Linked DNA regions of Homo sapiens: regions 1, 2 and 3 are each linked to region 4. Evidence: fine-mapped expression QTL. A gene starts in region 4. Each other region holds a variant in brackets. All regions are shown on one strand. Distances are from middle to middle.

What was found.
Region 1: its variant is fine-mapped to the expression of ARHGAP5 in whole blood (INTERVAL, PIP 0.98).
Region 2: its variant is fine-mapped to the expression of ARHGAP5 in whole blood (INTERVAL, PIP 0.98).
Region 3: its variant is fine-mapped to the expression of ARHGAP5 in whole blood (INTERVAL, PIP above 0.99).

The regions. Positions count from the first base shown.
Region 1 is chr14:32,016,889-32,022,039 of GRCh38, forward strand. No RefSeq gene overlaps it. Among named protein-coding and RNA genes, the nearest start is that of ARHGAP5-AS1, 57 kb to the right of the region's middle. RefSeq lists an enhancer at 3,385-4,584. The variant T/C (reference allele first, on the strand shown) is at 2,892.
Region 2 is chr14:32,200,186-32,205,336 of GRCh38, forward strand. RNU6-7 (RNA, U6 small nuclear 7) reads left to right here and starts at 1,860; the gene lies at 1,860-1,966. It overlaps RNU6-8 (RNA, U6 small nuclear 8), which reads right to left and starts at 3,084; the gene lies at 2,978-3,084. RefSeq lists enhancers at 1,412-1,471, 1,552-1,611, 2,709-3,254, 3,255-3,799 and a silencer at 2,889-3,068. The variant A/G (reference allele first, on the strand shown) is at 3,136.
Region 3 is chr14:31,942,791-31,947,941 of GRCh38, forward strand. It overlaps LINC02313 (long intergenic non-protein coding RNA 2313), which reads left to right and starts at 2,063. Exons shown (of 2, transcript NR_146544.1): 1 at 2,063-2,318. RefSeq lists an enhancer at 1,345-2,544. The variant C/A (reference allele first, on the strand shown) is at 2,149.
Region 4 is chr14:32,075,359-32,080,509 of GRCh38, forward strand. It overlaps ARHGAP5 (Rho GTPase activating protein 5), which reads left to right and starts at 1,946. Exons shown (of 7, transcript NM_001030055.2): 1 at 1,946-2,077. It overlaps ARHGAP5-AS1 (ARHGAP5 antisense RNA 1 (head to head)), which reads right to left and starts at 1,341. Exons shown (of 1, transcript NR_027263.1): 1 at 61-1,341. RefSeq lists silencers at 1,367-1,626, 1,987-2,206, 2,005-2,299.

The DNA.
Region 1 (5,151 bases), 58 kb before region 4:
AGATATGGGAGCAGGGGATAAATTCTTCCCGTTTTCTCACCGAAAGAGACATTCCTGAGACATTTTTTACATGGCTTCATTGAAGATAACTCTGTGATATCAAACAATCCGTTGTCCTTAGTGGTAGCCAGTTCAATACACTTCCTTGTACCTGTATTGGTTTTATCTCCTTTTCTGTCTCACGTTATTTATCCTTCTCTCCCGATCCTTAATGTATGCTCCCTAACAAAATCGTGGCACGTAAACCCTTGCCTCAGACTCTACTTTCTGAAGAAACCAGCTAAGGAAAAAATGTCTCTAAAGAAAGAAAAATAGAGTAATGTAAAAAATGAAAATATGGGCCAGGCGCAGTGGCTCACACCTGTAATCCCAGCACTTTGGGAGGCCAAGACAGGAGGATTGCTGGAGCCTAGGAGATCGAGACCAGCCTAGGCAACATAGTGAGACCCCACCTCTACAGTAAATTAAAAAATTAACCAGGTGTGGTGGCACATGCCTGTAGTCCCAGCTACTCAGGAGGCTGAAGCTGCAGGTTTGCTTAAGCCAGGGAAATCAAGGCTGCAGGGAGCTGTGGTCACAGCATTGCTCTCTAGCCTGGGCAACAGGGCAAGACTCTGTCTCAAAAAAAAAAAAAAAAAAAAAAAAAAACAGAGGGAGAAAAGAAAAGAAAATATTCCCCTCCATAGAGGGAAAGTAAGTCAAAGTTTAAACCTAACCACAGATAAACAGCCCATGGTCCACAGCATCCCCTGTGGAGTAAGATTTGGGCTTCAGTCCTTAGTATCAAGCAGCAAGAACTACAGAAAGGCAGTTCAACAGCCTTCTTAAAGTGCCATAGGACACCTTCACTGGAGCTTCAGAAATTCTAAATATAGAATTCAAGAGCAGCAAACACTAATATCAGGATTTAGTTTGGCCCAGAGTAACCCTGTAAAGAAGGTGAAGTTGATCTTTAATGCCTCTACAGATCATCTTTCAGCATCTCCCTTTCCTCCCCTAAGACATTTGGTGCTTATGTTCTCTTTCTCCCTCTCCTTTATTCCAAACCTTTTAGCTCTGTATTACTTTGAAGTGATCACTTAAATTGATTTGCAGTAGAGTATTAATGACGAATTGAATTTAATCTGGTAGTTCTCCAAGAATTCCAAGAGGTTTTTACAGAATAAGCCCTTAGCTCAAAAGACTGTGTTTCTAATAGCAGAATACCTAGCATCAACAGTTGGCTAGTAGAGATAGATTTGAGGGTTCTTTAAACACATAACACACACAATTATTACTTTTCATTTATGTCTAGGACTTAGTCCAAGCTTTTTTATTTATGTGTCCTTTCAGATAATGATTTTTAACTATTAGAAGAAAGGGCAACACAAAGAAAACCCTGATTCAGTTTTTTCCCACCATAGTATTATGATATTTTTTGTAGTAAATTTGGAAATTAAAATAATTTTACATGCACAGCCTTATATGTATCATTAATATGTTACTATACTTGCTTTGTCACATATCTACATATCTATCCATCCCTTTACCCAATAATCCATCTTTTTATCGATTTCAAAGCAAATTGCAGGCATCAGCATTCTTCTCTAAATACTTCCCTGACTTGATTTTCCTCTTAGATTGTCTGCATGTCAGGACAAAGCAAAGAAGAATTCAGCAACTGCTGCTTAAAAACTCATTCACTACTTTAGAAATCGAGACAAAGTGAAAGACATGGATGGAATGAATTCAGCCCCTCCTCCTATTGTTTCTCTAGCAAGAAGGTGACCAAAGCTATAAATGTTTGTTTCCTGAAAACTAAAGTCCTGACTTGTCATCTTCATAGTGAAAAGAACCTCAAACGTATTAGTTCTTATGAGCCCACATGCTATAGTTAAACCAGCTCTCAATTGTTTATTTTAAATAATCAAATTGTTTTGTTGGTGTCTTTGTGTTTGTAGGTAAGTGTTTGAAGCTATAAATCATATCTTGAACTAAGTTCAAAATTTGAGTCAAACCAACACAAGTTGTCTGATTGCATTCCTGACCCACATGGATATCCCTTGTGTATAAAACAAGTTGCCCCATCTTGATCCTTTCCAATTTGTGATCTCCCTGACAGAACACCAGCCATGGGGGTTGTGGCTTCTCCACAAACCATCTCTTGACAAGTTCAGTCCCAGTGGTCTCTCATGGCCACCTGGCATAACTCTACTTACAGCCACACAGTCAAACATTTAATTGTTTAATTATTTTGCACAGAATGATCCTGTCTGTCTCCCAGAATCTAAGCTCTAGGAGGGAGTGAGGAGGGTAGGAAGCGTGTCTTCTGAGTTTTCTTCTACATTCAGTGCTCGAGGGCTGGGCACAGTACGAGGCACACACCTAAGACTTTGCAGGTCTTAAAGTCTTTTTACAGAAATGTTCTCACTTAAACTTGATGTATAGTAGGCTGCTTGGCCTACTTGCTTCCAAAAAGCTGGCTCTGGGTTCTTTGAAAGTGTTTCTCCCGGGATACGTGATCGTGGCAGTTAATATCAGCCAGAATACTTTTCTGACAAGTCCCCAGGCAATCATCACGAGCAGGGACTTAGAGACAGGGCTTTTCTGTGTCAGAGCCAGAATTCAGAAAGGCTCTGCTTTTCTTGGTTAAAAGAGAGCCAGGATTTTTTTCTTTTCAGCACCCGTTTGCGCTGACCTCTTTTTCTGGCTTCTCAGTAAAAGGAATAAGGACTCAGGAAGCACTGGGGGGAAAACGGTTGTTTAGCTGGAGAGAGGGCTTAGGCAAGGCTAACACTGTGGGCTGGAAAAGCCACCGACGAGCTTCCATTTTTCTTTCTTATTGTTCTAAAAACCCAGGTTACTGTCCAGCCCTGAGTCATCTCATAGTACATGGAAATATATCTATTAAG[T/C]ACATTGAGTTAAACTGTTCTCTCAAGGAAGCCCTGCCAGGGAGTTAGCAGGGACATAGGGTGCCCAAACATTGGGACAATTCATTAACCAGCACCCTAATAACCTAAATTATTCATGTCAGCTTGGACCCCAGAAGGGTCCATTCTCTTCTGAGAATGGGGCCCATGGCAATGTGCTGATCCTTACATGCGACATCATGTGGGTGTTTAGCTAAATAATAAATACATTGATATGCTTAAAAAATAAAAACTGATTCAGGCAATAGGTGAATGTATCTTTCTTTCTTCTAAATTTCTCTAGATAACCTTCTTTGTCATTCTGAATTTTATATGATAGAAAACCATCTACAGGTCTACATTGGAAATACTGAAAATAATTTTATTGAAGTCTGATAATGGGTGAAAACTACTGGATCTCATGGCTCATTCCTGACCTGAGCTGGATTTAATTCCAGAACCGAGGAAGGCTATGAAGTGATCCTCTTTTCATTATCCTTATTTTTTACTGTAATTTTGTAGTGGTTTCAGTGAGGAACAGAACCACAGAAATCCTTAGGGGCTTATCATCTAAGTTGGATATAGAAACAGAAAAGTAAGGCACCCAACAAGAAGCCAATTTTCTAAAGAAAAGGGAGTCCCAGAGTTTCTACTTTTATAATTCTTCCTTCCTCTGTCATTCTACAATATCATTGTCTTCAACATTTTTTAGAACAGTCTGCCCAGATATGATCTGGAAAACAAAGAAGCATGGAGAACAAACTTTGCCAGAAGAAACAGAAGTGCACTGGGGGGCACAGGTGGAGCAGCTTTGCTGTGATCTTGGCAAGAAAGCACTTGGGATCCTTAGGGGCCACTCAATCCTCCCCTCCATACCCTCACATGGTGGCCTTGGATTCCCAGCAGAGCCTCTGTGCTATGGCACCTGGAGGTTGAAGATGTTATAGTCTCGCCAATGCACAACAATTTAGCAGTCTCTCATTGTGAGGTATCACCCGGAGTTCTTTGTCTCACAACCAAGAGAATTAAGGAGCGTGGACACAAAGGGTGAGGTTGGAGCAAAAGTTTCATAAGTGAAAGAAGAAAGCTCTCCGCCTCAGCGATAGAGCCCGGAAGAAGGTTGCTGCTTTTACAGTTCAATGTAAAGGCTTTTACAAGAAACTGTTGAGGGCTGGGTGTCTCATTTGCATAAGGCACAGATTTCTGGTAGCTCCACCCTGTCATTCTAGTGCGCATGTGGGCCCTTAGCTTGAGTTACTCCATACTGCTTTGTTCCCTTTACTGAGCATGTGCTAGAGGACAGGATTTTTCCATTGCGGGCATGTCTGGGCAAGTCACCTGTGTAGCCTTTCTTATCTGTGCAGCTGTGGACATATCTTAGGTAAGCCCCCCACCCTGTGCACGTTCCCTTATCTGTGCCTGCAGCTTGAGTTTTCAGGCTGTTCTTTTGTTTGAAAGAATTCAACTGAGGACTCACCCTAACTCCCTTCTTGACCAGTTTCTTTCTTTCTCCTCTCTCAGAGAGATCCCAGTAGCAGCCAGATTGGGACCCCTGCCTCCCATAAGATGTTTACATACTGCAGCCAGCCCTATGGGAGCCAGGAAGGCCTGCAGAACTAGATCCTGCTCAGTTGAAGTAGGACGAGGGCTTAATTACACACCCTCCCCCCATTAAGTCCTGATTTCCACACATGAGGCTGCTATTAGGCCCACAGTCTATTTAAGAATGCTCCCAGGACAGATTAAAGAAAATCAGTCTGAGCCTCTTAGGAGGGAGCATCTCATCTCTACTAGAGGAGGAAGCAGTACATGGTGAACAAAGCCAACAGAGCAGCTAGAACCAGAGAAGGCAGGGCTTAAACCCTGGCTTAATAAGGACAAGATGGCTGAGTGCAGTGGCTCACGCCTATTACCCCAGCACTTTAGGAGGCTGAGGCGGAAGGATCACATGAATCCAGGAGTTTGAGACCAGCCTGGGCAACATAGTGAGACCTCATCTCTACAAAAAGTAAAAATTAGCTGGGCGTGGTGGCTCACACTGTAGTCCCAGCTACTTGGGAGGCTGAGGTGGAGGATCACCTGAGCCCAGGAGGTGGAGACTGCAGTGAGCTGTGAGCATGCCACCATACCCTATCTTGGGTGACAGAGTGAGACCTTGTCTCACAAAAAAATATATATTATATATATATTTTTCATATATATGTATATATATGTGTGTATATATGTATATATATGTATATATGTATATATGTGTATATATACG
Region 2 (5,151 bases), 120 kb after region 4:
GAAGGCGCATATAGCTTGTAGGGACATCAAGTTCATGACCCTGTAACTCTGATCGTCCTTCTAACTATAGATTCTTCTAACCATGTATCCTTTAATAAACTGATTAGTTGTAAGGTTTTTAAGAGAGAACATGAAAGAATTTTGATATACTTCTACAATCATAAAATTGAACATCAATTTACTGCTTCCTAGCTTTGAAGTCACAAAGCAGAAATAGCTTATTGGAAAGACAGGGCGTTAGAAGAAATATATCAAAGCACATTTTATTTGTAATTGGAAAATTTAACTCAACAGGAATGTCGTTTTTGCCTAATTTTTTTGAGGGGGAAAGAACAGTGTTTCTATTACTTTTCAAAAGCTGTGAAAGAAAAGAATTATAACCTCAAACACAGAAAAACATAGGGTTAGCAATAATTCCTGTGGGCTTAACTTTCTGTTCCTCTTTCTGTTTTTGGCTCAGCAATACCAGAAACTCGTATATGATTTCACACTATTTTCTTTTGGTACATCAGAAAATTGGATACCAATTAAAATTTTTCTCAATTACTGATTTTTAGTAGGTTCTTACTTCAAAATATTGTTACAGGAAGGGGTAAAACGACCACAGGAAGGAGAAAAAGCAAAACTCCAGTTATTGGTAAATGTGCCATATTCCTCATTCAACGTGCCGTTTTAACGCAACACAGGCAAACATTTGCCCTTTACTTTCTTCAATATATGAAATACTGTAACCAAATAAATACCAGAGGCTTTGATCTTTGGCCCTCATCTCACAACGCTCAGGGATATGACTTGAACAGTACGATTTTTGCTGTAGTTAAAAATCAGAATATTTAACACTAACAGTATTTCTTACGAGTAGGTCTGTCCCGTACTTTTGTATCCTAACAGGGTTAGGATGAGAGTGCAGGGAGGTATAAGGACGTACAAGAATGCTTCTCCAGTTCAACTCTAAGTGAACGATGTAATTCCTCAAATCCACCTCTCAGCCTGTTTTTCAGCGTTCCTGTGTTTGGCTGCCAGGGGCGAAAGTAGCGGTCGAGGGAAGACACCTGTGAAGGGGCGTGGCTACTCGCCCGGGTTCCTCCGTCCCTGACCCCAGAGGCGCCTGCGCAGAATGGACAGAGGCGCTGCTGTACGAGAGGGGTGTGGCCGCCCTGTCCAAGGTCCTCAGCCCCCGACCCGACGGGCGCCTATGCACACCGGCCGGAGATAGTCACGCAGATGCCAGTGGAGTCCACCGCAACTTAGAATGTAGTGCCGACGGCTCCAGAACTGAGTGGCCGAATCGTTGCAAGGACTCTCCCGGAGGGTTGAACTTTGGGTTCACTTCAGCAAAGTCTGTTGGCACAAGGCCCCAATGTCACCGGCGAAATATCGGTGAAAACTTCCATGTTTGGGGGAAGACCCCTGCCCGACCTAGTGACCTAGCGGGCCAACCGCCTCCCCAGCTCTCAGAGAGACTTCGGGGAGACGCCAAGCGCTCCAGGCCGGCCCTGTCCTCTGCGCTCCACTGCTGCCGCACGGACTGCCAGACTCCCGGCATGCTCTGCGGACTGAAGTCCGCGGCACGAGAAATCAAAGCCCCGGGGCCTGGGTCCCACGCGGGGTCCCTTACCCAGGGTGCCCCGGGCGCTCATTTGCATGTCCCACCCAACAGGTAAACCTGACAGATCGGTCGCGGCCAGATACGGCCTGGCGGTCAGAGCACCAATCTTACGAGCCTTGTGATGAGTTCCGTTACATGAAATTCTCCTAAAGGCTCCAAGATGGACAGGAAAGCGCTCGATTAGGTTACCGTAAGGAAAACAAATGAGAAACTCCCGTGCCTTATAAGACCTGGGGACGGACTTATTTGCGTGCTCGCTTCGGCAGCACATATACTAAAATTGGAACGATACAGAGAAGATTAGCATGGCCCCTGCGCAAGGATGACACGCAAATTCGTGAAGCGTTCCATATTTTGCGCGGTTCAACGAAGGTCGTTGGGCAAGATACGGTGGTGTTCCTAGAGGTTGTTCAAGATCTCTCGGGGCCTGCATTTTCCTGCTCGCGAGCTTGGCCCAGTAGACACCTACGATGCTGTCCGGGCCTCCCACCAGTCCTGTCGCACAGTGGGCACACTTCCTCGACAGCCTCCATCTTCGAGGCGCCTAGTTACGTTACTATTAAGTTACCTAGGTGATCCTCGTATCTGCGTCCAAATACTTGTTTTCATTGATTAAAATATGCTTTCAGGCTGGGCAATGAACATTCCTCCTAATCAAATTTCCCATCACAGAATCTGTCCGATTTATGTAAATCGGCCCTTTCTAAGTACTTCTTAGAGGATACATGAAAACAGAAGACTCGTGAAAACAGATCCAGATGGGCTTGCTACTTGTGGCCAGTATTCACATGGGTCCTGGAGCTCTTGAATCTATAGGCAAAGGCCAACATTGATTTCCAATAATACCAGCCCTTAGTAACATTCCTTTCCTTTGTGCAGCTCGCAGTCTAAGAGAAAGGGTGTAAGCACTCAGGTCTAAGATGATGGAGAATGGCACAAAGTAGGCGCAAGAAATGAGCGCTAATGTTTCCTTCCTTTAGTAGAGATTTATTAGGTTAGGAAAGATTTAGTAAGGATTTATTGAACAATTCATATGCCAGTTGGTCTTCTACTGAACAAAAGCCAAACAAGCTGGGGCTCTGGAGTTTGTGTTGTTTGGTGAGACAAGACCGTAAGTCTATTTCAGAATGAAAAGTTCAATGAAGAAGGCACAAGGTGACCTTTTTCCATTTCCAAAATGCGTATTAACGATCTATTCGCACACAACATTCCTCGGGTGACTCTGCTTCGTTCCCACTTCATAGATTTCACAAATTTTTTGTAATGAAAACCACTGTTTCGTCATTGGGTGCCACACGTTTTCGCTTAGATTCACACTGTTTCCTTAGTACTAATTAGCAGATACTGAAATGATCTTGACAGACTGCGCAAAATATGGAACGCTTCACGAATTTGCGTGTCATCCTTGCGCAGGGGCCATGCTAATCTTCTCTGTATCGTTCCAATTTTAGTATATGTGCTGCCGAAGCGAGCACGTTGAGAAGAAGTCACCCACAGGCCTTATAAGGCACGGGAGTCTTTCACCT[A/G]TTCTACTTACGGTGACCGAACCGCGCCCTTTCCTGTCCATCTTGGAGCCTTTGGGAGAATTTCATGCAACGGAACTCATCACAAGGCTCGTATGTTTGGTGCTCTGACCGCCAGGTCGTACCTGGCCGCGATGACCTGTCAGGTTTACCTGTTGGGTGGGACATGCAAATGAGCGCCCGGGGCACCCTGGGTAAAGGGCCCCGCGTAGGACCCAGGCCGGGGGCTTTGAGTTCTCGTGCCGCGGAGCTCAGCCCGCGGAGCATGCCGGGAGCTGCCAATGCTGCGGCCGCCTCTGAGCGCGCGGCGGGGTCCAGCGCCCAGGCGAGCTGGAGACGCCCCGATAACGAGGCTGCTGCGGCACCGAGAGGGCCGGCCCGGGGTCGGCGCGCACCTTTAGAACAGGTCGTTTCACCATTAACTTCCTCTGATGAGTAATTTTTTTTAAAAAAGTAATTAACCGACCATTATCACACCTAGAAAAGTTAAGGTAATTCCTTCATGGCACCTAATATTCAGTCTACTTTCAAATTTCCTTATTTCAGAAATTCCTTATTACAGTCGAATTGTCATAGAGATCCAAACAAGGTCCCAGGTTGTATTCGGTTGCTACGACCCTGGGTGTCTATTGTCCTCTAATTGCCCTCGCCTCGTTTTTCTTCACGTCATTCGTATACTGAGGGATATTTGCCCTGTGGATTGTCGCAGATCTTGGGATTTGGCCCATTACTTACTGATGGTGTCGTTTAACTTGTTTCTCTAGCCTCCATGTTTCTTGAAAATTTATGGTTAGGGGTAATGGACTCATTAGATTCTGGTTGTGTTGTGTTTTGTTTTGACGCCCGCACGGCTTCAAACACAGTGGTAGGGTGTGTGCTTACTGCACCTCAGCAAGAGTAGTGTATCCGCTGGCTGTCCCCGTGTGAGTGATGCCTACCCCTGACCTGTGGGTGCAGGTGCGGTCAGCCGTCTGACCCCTCACACTATAAAGTCTCCCAGAAATCTTTCCTTTAATGATTTTAGGATACACCCATGAACAAGCCAAGTAGAAGGTCTGGTCTGGTGGTTTGCTTGCTTTTTGTTTTGTTTTGAGGACACGTTGTAATTGTACATATTTATGGGGTGCAATTTGATGTTTCGATACATATCTATGTTGTATAACGATCCAATCAAGGTAGTGTATCCACCACCTCATGCATTTATCCTTTCTCTGTGGTGAGAACATTCAGTAGCCTCTCTTCTATTTTGTGGTATACAAAATTTTACTGTTAACCATTTTCACCCTACCGTGCAATAGAGCATCAGAATTTTTTCCCTCTTCTTTAATTGTATCTTTGTACCCATTAACCAATGTTTATAAACAAACATTGTGAGTTTGTGAGTTATAAGTTTACTTGTGAGTTATAAGGATTTAACCCCTGGCCTGTGGTGGCCAAGTTCTGTATCCCATGGAAGAGAATTGAGAGAATAATAGGATCAGGGAAAGAAATTAGGAAAGAGTGTTGATGTCATTTGAGTCTCTGGATCATTTGATCCCATGAGCAGGTGCTTTCCATAGTTGTTTGGTTACTCGTTCTAACAAATTACTTTTATTAGGCTAGATTAAAGTTGTTTTTGCCAAATGCAAATATGAGATCTTAAACATTTGTGAGTTTAGCATGTCTTCACACTGCACACTTGCAACATTAAAACATTATTGGCTTCTGCTAAACTCAAAAATATTTAAGATGCCGTATTTGCATTTTGACAAAAACAACTCTAGTGTTAGTACCCGTGGTTAAGCATATATGAATTTCCAATCACGTTTTTTTTTAGGAGGAAATAGTGTTCTTTATCACATCCTTATAGGAAAGTTATGAGGTAGGTGGCTATTTAATTAAATAATATTTTGTATGATTTGACTCATTTGAGAACGATGAGTCTTTTTTTTTTTGAGACGGAGTCTCACTCTGGCAACCAGGCTGGAGTGCAGTGGTGCGATCTCGGCTCACTTCAACCTCCGCCTCCCAGGTTCAAGT
Region 3 (5,151 bases), 130 kb before region 4:
CCTGATCTTGCTTTGCAGCTTGTCTGTAGTTCTAGTCTTTAGAGTCGCGGAAGCCTGAGTTCCCACCAAGCTCAGCTCTTAATGGCTGTGTGATAATGAAGACGTCACTTGATCTTCCTGAGCCTCAGTTTCTTCATCTGTAAATTGGGATGAGATACCTCCCTCATGGGTCTGTTGTGAGGACAACATGTGATGATCCTGCCAAAGCTCTCTAGGCACTCTGTGCTTAGCTGTGTGGCCAATGCACAGTCAGCAGCGACACGATGCTATTTTTACTGCCTTCTTTCCCTCTTTCCCCAAGAGGACACACTCCTCTAGAAAAATAAGGTTCATGCAAACCTGCACTTTAAGAGCATTTATACAGATGTGCACGATGCAGTGCATGTGTCTTGATGGGGCTTTGTTAAATTGAATTTTAAAATTGTGTTTTAAATATACTTAGGGAAGTACAGAAAGGTACCCCAGAACAGGTTGTTTTATAAAGACAACAATAATTTCTGAATTATTTTCATTTCAGCTTTTTATATACTGTGTAGTCACAAAATGAGAGACCCTCCCCCACTCACCCCACCCTCACAGCTCCCCAGAGGAACAATAGCCATGAGCAAACAGTGCTTGCCTCCTGACCTTCGGGTGTTTCTCCTAAAGGCTAGCTCATTTAAGGGCAGCAGTCAGGGGCTTGCTACTCTTCGCAGCCCTGTTTCTTTTCTTGTGATGAGAAGAAACAAGCCCAGGCTGACAGCTGGCCAAGACTTGAACTAGAATGTTGAAGTTGAAAAGTCAAAATGGGTCTGTGTCAAAGGACTAGCAGAGGGGAAGGGACTGTCCTCCGGGGAGCTGAGGAGTGAGGATGGTCCTCACCTCGATCCAGCGATCAAATTCCCCAAGTAAATCCATGTAAAACATGAACTGTGGCCAGCACTTGTTAAGCAAGGAATATTAAAAATCATTGTCATTACTGCTGCTATTATTGTTACAGGCTTGTTCCAAGACTCTGGGTTTTGGCTCAGCTTGTCTAAATGGTCTTCCATCTTAAGGAATCAAGGGGTAGATTTTGGAACCACTAGCTCCATAGCCAAAGAAGGAGCAATCCAGCAACTTAGGCATTGATTCCGCAAGCCGTCCCAGAGCCTCTGTGTAGTCCTTACTTTCCCTAAATTGCCATGACTAGCTGGCTCAAGTTAGGCCTTTCTAATTTACCTGGACCGTTGCTGTCTCCTGTGCACGGCTGCGGGGATGAGCACCTTGTTGTGCGTTCCTCCGCTGGGCTGACGGAAATGGTTTGCAGCCAGACTGCTACGCCACGCGGTCTGGCATTTAGTCCTCAGAAATCTGATTTAGAGAACGTATACATTGCATCACAATCTAGATTTCAGAGGAAAGTTTTGGATAGAATAACCCAGACCCAAGTCTGGGTAATTTAAAGCCTGGGTGAAATGGGGCAGAAAGAGCCCAGAATATACAGGTCTGAATCTTGGCTGGGGTGATGTGGAAGACTGGAGGCGCCAGACGGCTGGCCTCCCTCCAAGTGTTTACCATGCTGGTGCCATGGGGCTGGGGCTGGGCAGTCCATGTGCTCATTCTTCCCTTCTCTTCTCCTCCTCCTCCCCCTCCATCTCTCCTCCTCCTCCTCATGTTTTCTATAGGCTAGAGAAACTCAGGAACTACTGACCCACAGGGAAGGCAAGCGGAGATATGAGACGGAGGAATCAAACGCTGCCCTGGTGGAGGACGCTGTGGGTTTACAGTGGATGATTTCCTCTGCCTATGAGATAAAAGGGCTGGCTCTGTACTTTGAACCCCAGCCTCACCCACCTCTGCCTGGGTGTGGCTCTTACTCTCTGGAAGACTTACTCAGGGGAGAGGACAGGACAGTGTGAGGCTTGAATCTCCAGGAAATAGAGTCTGTGGGCAGCCATTGACTCCGAGTCAATGAGAACAAGGTGTGCTGTTTCCTCTGTGCTGTTTCTTCCCTGCCCCACTCCCCGCCCCTTTGTCCTATGGTGCCCAGGCTGCCTGCACTGCCCAGATACCACAGGCCTTGCCAGGGACCTCCTGAGAGGTTTCTGAGGCTTGCAGCCAGTGGTCCCGTTAGTCTGCACGTCTCCGAGTTGCCCTCCCAGAGGAGAAAGCATATGCTGCTGGGAC[C/A]GACTGCAGCTCCTCATGGATGCACCTGCCACCAGAAAATTGTTGTTCAGTCTGGGATTGCTTTCTCTTCCCAAAGCACAATCTCACATGCAGTCATGAGCCCAGTCCAGCCTCTGGGACAGAAGATTTCGTGCTTTTATAAACCAACAGCACTGCAGGTGCTGCACAAGGTAAGTGTCTCCCTTATTTCTTTCCCTCCCCGGAAGCCTCTGTATCAAACTAGGAGTTACCTTAATAGGGTCAAAGGAGGGTGTGGCTGTTTCACTTCCTGTTGTCAGCAGCCAAGTGTGCCTGAGGACAGAGGGTGGTGGGCAGGCATCCATTATGTGTAGGGAGGCAGGTATTGTACTGCTCTGGAACACACTGAGGAAGGGGGGTGCTCTGGCTTCCCTGACACCACCTCCCTGGTCAGGCTGCCGCAAGGCACCCAGATGTCAGTTGTCTTCCCACAACCTAATCATTCACAGCTGCTCCAGGGCCACACTTAGGATCTCTTTCCAGCGGTCCTCTTAGTCTGCCCCAGGGGCATGGCAAAGGAGGGCCTTTCATCCAGGGATCTCACACTCACAGAGACTTCACATTTGGATTTTTAAAAATTTATCTCTGAAGATATGCTAATAAGACTGAAAAGATGGAAATGATCATCAGCTTTAAACTTATGCCTGATTTTGGTACCAGGCCCATGAATTTTTAAGATTAATCCTGCCATTATCCCGTGAATAGGATGGTTATATTACCCTGTGCGTTTTTTTTTTAAAGCTTACACGTGTTAAAGCCTTAATTTATTAAATGTAAACTTCTAAAATATAGTATATCACAATTTTTGAAACCCTATTTGGGGATTTCTTCATTTTAATATACCTGAAGCCTCAGATAATGGGCGTGTCCCTGGTCTTTGTCCTCCAAGCGGCCCATTGGCCACTCCCCTCTTGATGGACTGTGGAGAGAAGCTGTTCCCTTTCCACGTGGTCATTTCAACTTCAGAAAAATCTCAGGTGCAATTGCCTGTTTCATTACAGCAGCTAGCCTATAATGAAAGAGGCCTTCGAAGCTTAGGCATGCCCAGTTTGGCCCCTTTCTTCATTTTACACACTGTTTTCTCCTCCCACAGGAAGGCTTCTCTCTACGGGGCTCAAAGCTACAGGCTCTCCACCATAGGGAAAATGGCCGACTAATATTCTTGAGTTCTTTACCCTTAGGCAATGGGGCTCAACTGTGACTGCACATTGGAATCAGTGGAGAGTTTTCCAAACATCCATCCGATGCCTGGGTTCTACCCCCACAGAACCTGATTTACTTGACCTGGGGTGTGGCCTGGGCATTGGAATTTTTTAAAGCACCCCACATGATTTTAATACACTACAAAGTTTCAGAAACAGTGCCCTAAGACCCTGGTTCTCAAACATTAGAATTCATCAGAATAATGTCCTCGTGGGGAGGGTCTTGTTAAAGCATAGATTGCTGGGCACAGTTTCTGATTCAGAGTTTCTGGATGGTACCTGGTAATCTGCATTTCTAATGAGTTCCCAGGTGATGCGATGCTGCTGTTCTGGGGATCATGTATTTACAACAGTTGTGCTAAAAGAAAGACAGTTAGAGTGGTGGGTTGGGAGGAGAAATGTGAGTGAATGCATGAAAATGTAGTTATTTCTTATTCTCAACCTCTGCAGTTGGCTTCAGAGTCAGGGACACCCCTAAATTACAGCAGTTACAGAGTATATTGGTCACCAAAGCTGCCACTGTGCAGAGACCCAAGCTAGGATAGAGCTGAGCCCCAGCAGCTGGACCCTGGTTGGTGGGGTAAGGCATGGTCTGAAACAGTCTGGGGCTACAGATCAGCTCTGTCCAGTGAGAATATAATACAGGGCACAAGGGTGAGTCACTTATGTAACTTCATATATTATAACCACATTGAAAAAACTAGAAACAGGTGAGATTAATTTTAATAATCTATATTATTTAACTTAACCCTCCAAAATCTTATTTTAACAGTCATCAACATAAAAAATGATTAATGAGATATTTGGCATTCCTTTTTCATGCTAAGTCTTTGGAATCGTACATGTGTTTTACACTTACAGCACATCTCAATTCACACCAGCCACATTTCAATGGCCACACGTGGACAGTGCCAGCCTGGATAGACCTAAGTACTGGGGCCGTCTGCCCCTGACGTAGGACTGATCACAAAGGTCCTCACTTCTCCCGGCAGCACATGGCCCCTCCTTCCATGCCTCTCAGAGCTCTTGGAATCTGTTCTCAGCATCTGAGAATCCCTCTGGCGTTCTTTACCATCGGTGCTTTGGACAGCACAAAAGGTTAACCAGGTTTAGTCAGGTCTGCAGGGCTTGTTCCCTCATGTCTGTGCATCTGAGGTCAGAATCTGAGAGGTTTTCATAGCCACTCCCACTCTCTTTCCTGACTTCACCATCTATAGAGATGAGTTCAGCGCCGGGTTTTTGTTGGAGAGAAATGGGTGTCTGAAATGGATTGAGGAAGAGAGTGAGGGGAAGCTGTAGTTGGGCCTAACAGTAGAACCAGGATGGAGTTTCTTTCGAAAGCTGCAAGCAGGAATGACGCTGATACTTCTGGTGCCTACCCCTGTCAAAGGACTCCAGAGCAGTGTGAGGTTTGTGACAGGACCAGGGTGACAGTCATTGTGCTCTTCCAGCAGCATGCTGACCTCTCTCCAATTAAATTCACTAAACATACAAGTATTGAATGGCTACTGTGTTCTCAAGTATTGAATGCCTACTGTGTTCTCAAGTATACTGATAAGGCAGTGGGCTATAATTATTGGAACTACACATTTTGGAATCAGTCAAGCCTGAGTTCAAATCCCCACTTTTGCAATGTGATCTTAAGCAAGTTACTTAATCTCTAAGCTGTGGTTTCTTCATTTGCAAAATGTGGGTAATACCTACGTAGTAAACTCCTGTGAAGATAAAGTGAAGTGATACATGTCTTTTCTTAGCACAGTGCCTGACGCACTCAGTGAAGGCA
Region 4 (5,151 bases):
TAAGTCTACCTTTGAGAAATATGAAGGGCAGGAAGACGGAAAAACGAACAGAACTTCTGCTGGAATATTGTGACAAATTTACTGACAAATATTTTCTAATAGATTTTTACCAACAGGCAGTTTTTGTTTTCTTTACTGACAGACCGTAAATGTACTTCTGGTTGGCAGCAGCTGCATCATTATAACACAAAAGCAACCTTGGCTAACTTCAGTACCTTATGTAACATAAGAAATAAAGAATAACTTGAATTTAAAATACTTTTTATATGTTTACTAACATTAAACTATTTTCAATGCAGGAAATAAATATTTCCCCAAAGAGGAATCCCCCCTCAATTACTTTCTTTCAGACTTAACAAATTGGAGTAGATGTGGTTTTGCTCATTCTTTTATCTGCTGGCAACTATTTTAAGTCTCCTGTGCAAGGCAGATTCCGATGACCTCGGGAAAGTCACAGGACCTCAGTTTCTTCAATGGTAAAAGCAAAGGCAGTGGTTTCTACCGTCCTTTCTCACTGCACCATTCAGCGTCAGTGCCCTCATGAGAAACACACCCAAAGCCCAGTGTGCTCTACCCCAAAACTTGTGAAATTTCTAGAGTCTCAAAAAAGTGAATATGTTTAAGGCAGTATAATAAAAGCCAGGTGGACGACAGTTCCTAAAGTTAGGCTGGTAGTGGCGTGAACAGGGGTCTTTTGGGCCACCCTGAGACCCGCCCCACGGGGCTTCTCGATCCACGTCTTGGCTTCTCGCTCCACTTTCACAGAACGTACTGAATCAGGGGCCTGCATCCCCGTGCCGTGCCGAGCCGACGGAGAAATGGACTCCTCTTCTCGCTCCTGTGGAGTTTCGTCTTCTGGGTGAGTGTGGCACCGGGTCCTGGGCGGGTGATGTCTGTAGTTGGCGAGCGATCCTCAGCCAGAAAACTGGCTGCGCACACAGGCGCAGACACGCGAACATGTTCCTGCGAACGAGCTTGGGCGCATGTTTTCCTCCCTTGCTTTCTTTAATGCTCAGAGACCATAAGGGGATTTATCGAGAAGCATTCGGTGCCCATGCCCGGTTTGGAACCGCGAGCACAATATCTGGTTCCTTTGCAGTACGGTGGTTTGCTCTTGAGTTACGACCAGAAACCGGAACAGAAGGAAAGGGAGAAGCAGGGGAGGTTCGGGGACGACGGCGCTCCGGGCAGTAAGGCAGTAGCTTCCAAAGCGTGGAGGATGGGACTGAGGAGGAGCAGAATACGGAGAAAGAGGGAAGCTGAGGAAAAATACTCACGCCAATGGGTAAAAGGGAAAAGGTGAGAAGGAATGGAGTAGGGGAGGGAACCAATGGTGGGAGAGGCGGAGGAAGAAGGGGGAGGGGTAGAAGCCAATGGGGGAGTGGAGGGGAGGGAGAAGCAGAGGGGAGGAGGGAGCGGGGACGCGAGCGAGGACGCGGCCCCGCGCGCTCGTCCCCCTCCCTCCGACTGGATAGCTCGCGCCTTCCCAGGCTCCCGGGAGACGAGGGCAGGGGCGGGGCCGTGCCGGGTGCGCGGCGCGGGAGGCGTCGCGAGGTGAAGGGGCGGGGACGGGGGATTGTGGGGAGGGCAGCGCGGGTTCGCGCGCGCGCGCGCGTCCCGTCCAGGCTGCGCCGCCGCGCCGCCGCTCCGCCCCCGGTCGGGTGTGTGGCTGCGCGCGCCGGGAGAGATGCTGAGGTAAAGTTCGGGAGAGAGGGAGAGAAATCCGTCAGCGCGAGGGAGCCCGAGTGGCCGCCATTACTGAGCCCGGCGCGGCGGCGGGCGCTGGGGAAGGGGGGAGGGACGGGCCGCCGCTGGTGGCGGGGAGGGAGGGAGGGAGGGTGGGTGAGCTGGCTGCGGGAGCCGTGGGGCTCAGGGTTTCGGGGCGTGTGTGTCGGGGAGGGCGGGGGGAGGTGGCTGAAGGGACGCGCCGCTCGGTGAGCGCGCCGAGGAAGAGAGGCGAGCGGAGAGTGGAGGAGGAGGCGGCGGCGGCGGGAGCGGTCCCCAGGAATGTCGCTGCCGCCGCCACCGCCGGGGCCGCTGCCGTTGAGGAGGAGACGGAGGAGACCGACGTTGTTAGGTAGGACCTTGCGGACCCCGCTCCTCCAAGCCTGCCTGCCCCCTCCCGGACGGGGACCCTCCTGCGGCTAGCTGCCCCGCTCGGTCGCCGCTGCCGGTTGTAACCAGTTGAAGGGGCTGGGGCCCCGCGGCCGCCGAGGGGAGCCTGGCGCTGCGCTCGGTTTTCGCAGGCCGGGCGGGCAGCAGCTGCAGCGTTAGGGATACGTTCGGCGTGAAGGGCAGAGAGGCCGGGGGAGGGGGTGCTTTCTCCACAGGTGACGGGGCCAGGGTCGGCGGAGGCCTGATGCTGGCCGGGGATCGCCGGCCCCGCCAGGCGTCCGCTCTCGCCCGCCGCCTCACTTGCTCGAGTCTCGGGTGGTCCGTCGAGAGGGGAGGTGGCGGTGTCCGTTGGCCGGGTTGCTGCTGTTAACGAGTTCCACCTGGAAAGGGTACACGGGGCGGGTGCAGATTCGCGGAAACACAGTCTCGGTTGCAAACTTAAACGCCTTGTAGGGGGGATCGGCCCTTTCACTTTCCCTCATCTCCTCGACTCCTCCCTGGGTTCTCTTCACCAATTTTCCATCTGCTTTGAAGCTTGGAGTAAGATATGAGAAGTTGCACTGCGCATCCAGAGCCCAGAGTCCTATGGGCTGACTGCGACTGGGTTGAGGCTTTGATACTGAGTTTTCGCTAGAATAACCTCCAGATTCTTCCTCTCTTTCCACTAAAGAAAAGTATCGGGGTGGGGGTGGGGAGCCGCGCGGGAGCGCGCGCGCACTTATCCACACAGAAATACTCCCTCTCACCCTCCCTCTTCAGCGTTATTAGAAATGCAAGAGAGCTGGAGGCTCGGGGTGTAGCTGAGGTTGAAAGGTGCACGGAAGTAAGGGCAAACTGTTATTAGGCCGTTTAGTAAAATCCCGAAAAAGTTGTAGGGGAGACGCTTATACTTCTACCATGTGATAGAAATTCGGATTTGGCCATCGCTTAATAAATGGGAATTCAAATATTTTGAGATAGAGCAAGATAGGCATATAGATGGGTTTGTGCTTACGTTTTAAGTTTAAATTCTTATCGATCATTTATTTTTTCCTTTGTGATAGGCAGGAAACTGAATTTTTTTTTAAATGTTCAGGTGTAAAACAGCAAAATGCTTCGCTGTATTTACTAGTACTTGCTTATGTTGCTTTCTACAGGTAGGGGCGGGGGGCGAGTTTGTCAATTCCACTTAAATCCAGAACCAGTATTCAGTTAGAATGTTAGGTGGTGTTTATCCGCATGAAGGATCTCGTTCACTTCATGGGAGCTTGCTCTACATTTCCACTTAAAATGGTTCTCCTAACAAAAATTTCATCTAGATGCAGCGATTAGACATTTGGAATAATGTTTGGTTTAAAAATACGTTAATGAAACCTTTTGCTGTCAATTCTAGTTTATTTGTACTGTAATACGATAAAACGGTATTCTTATTCAGTGTTTGTAGATAAGTATTACTAACCGTCTAGGTAACCTACTAGATAGTTTCTTGAGTAAGATTTTGCTTTCATTTTAAATTCCTTTCTCATTTTTTGCTTTCATCTATCCTTTGTATACTAATTGACCTCCATTACCTTTATCTGTAGTACAAAGAGCGGTAAGTATGTGTCACCAAAAACTTGCAAAGACACTGGAGCAATTTATGACTAAACGCACTGGAGTGAAAGGCTGCGCATACCTATGCTTGTAACTTTCAAGAAATAGCACTATTGATCTAATTGACTTAAAGCAGAATCAGACGGTACAGATGATTAAATAACTATTGATTTGGTTGTCTTGTGTAGGCTGTGTTTTTAAACCTAGATCAACATGTCTTATTTTGCCATTCTTTGTACATTAATTATTAAGAGTACTGGGGAGTGAGGTGGGTTACACTTTGATGTAAGAATTGCGGCAGAATTCTGTTATCTTTATGAGTTTTGTAGTGTCCCTCCCCATTTAAACGACCTTAGCAATTTTTAAAATGTGTTGCAAAATTATTACCTTAATTCTGTCACAAGATACTTATCCTAAATGTTTTGAAAACCGTCTCCCCTTCTTATTTGTGTTTGAAAAGCATATTAGCACAGTCATTTTTTTGGAGAGTTATTTTGACCTTGAAAGTTAAGATTATTTAAGGAATGAATATTGTATTTGCATTCCTTTTTTGGATTTGAAGTAGCGATAATAAGTTTTCTAACTCACTTTTTTTAATTGAAGAAAAAGTTAGGTCTCATAAAGACTTTACTAAACTTTACCAACATTGGCAGGATGTAAGATGAGTGTTGGCCTTTAGTGGTCACTTCTTAAATATGAAATGGCATAATAGAGATTTTCTTGGTAGCTACAGAATAAGTTTTGTCGCAACTGTAGTTTCCATAGATACTATTTTAAGAACTATTTATTTGGGTTGTATGGTCCACAGTTTTTTCTTTGCATACCAAGAAGGTGTGTAGTAATATAATTGGCTGAAGAAGCATTGTACAGTGTTGTTTTAGTGATGTCTATGTTCCTAAAAGATACTTGTATTATATATTTAAAGTACACCAAGGGAATTTAATTTCTAAAAGACCTGTGAAGAAACATCAGTAGATTCATCATTCAGTAATTTGAGTAATCAGGCTCTTGTTTTAAGTGCAGGCTTTTGTCGATTATTTTATTGAAATAGGAAAAACCATATTAGAAATTAAGAAAAATGCTTCAATGCTAAGAATTTTAAGTATGAACTTTAATTGGTTTTCAAACTCTGTTCCTTGGATTCCTGTGGGTTTTTTTCCTAGATGCCTTGAGACTTCCTATGACAACCCACCCTCCCAAACCAGGACAGCTTCTATTTTCATGTATTAAGTGTATTGTATTTAAATATAAGAATATTTAACTTAATTAAATATAAGAAAAATATTTATTATTTAAATATAAGAAAAATAACTAATGGGTACTAGGCTTAATACCTGGGTAACAACAAACCCCCTTGACATGAGTTTACCTTTAAAACAAACCTGCACATCTACTCCTGAACTTCAAAGTTAAAAAAAAAATTCCCCTTAAAAAAAAACAAAACTGATCTGCATTAATTTTTTT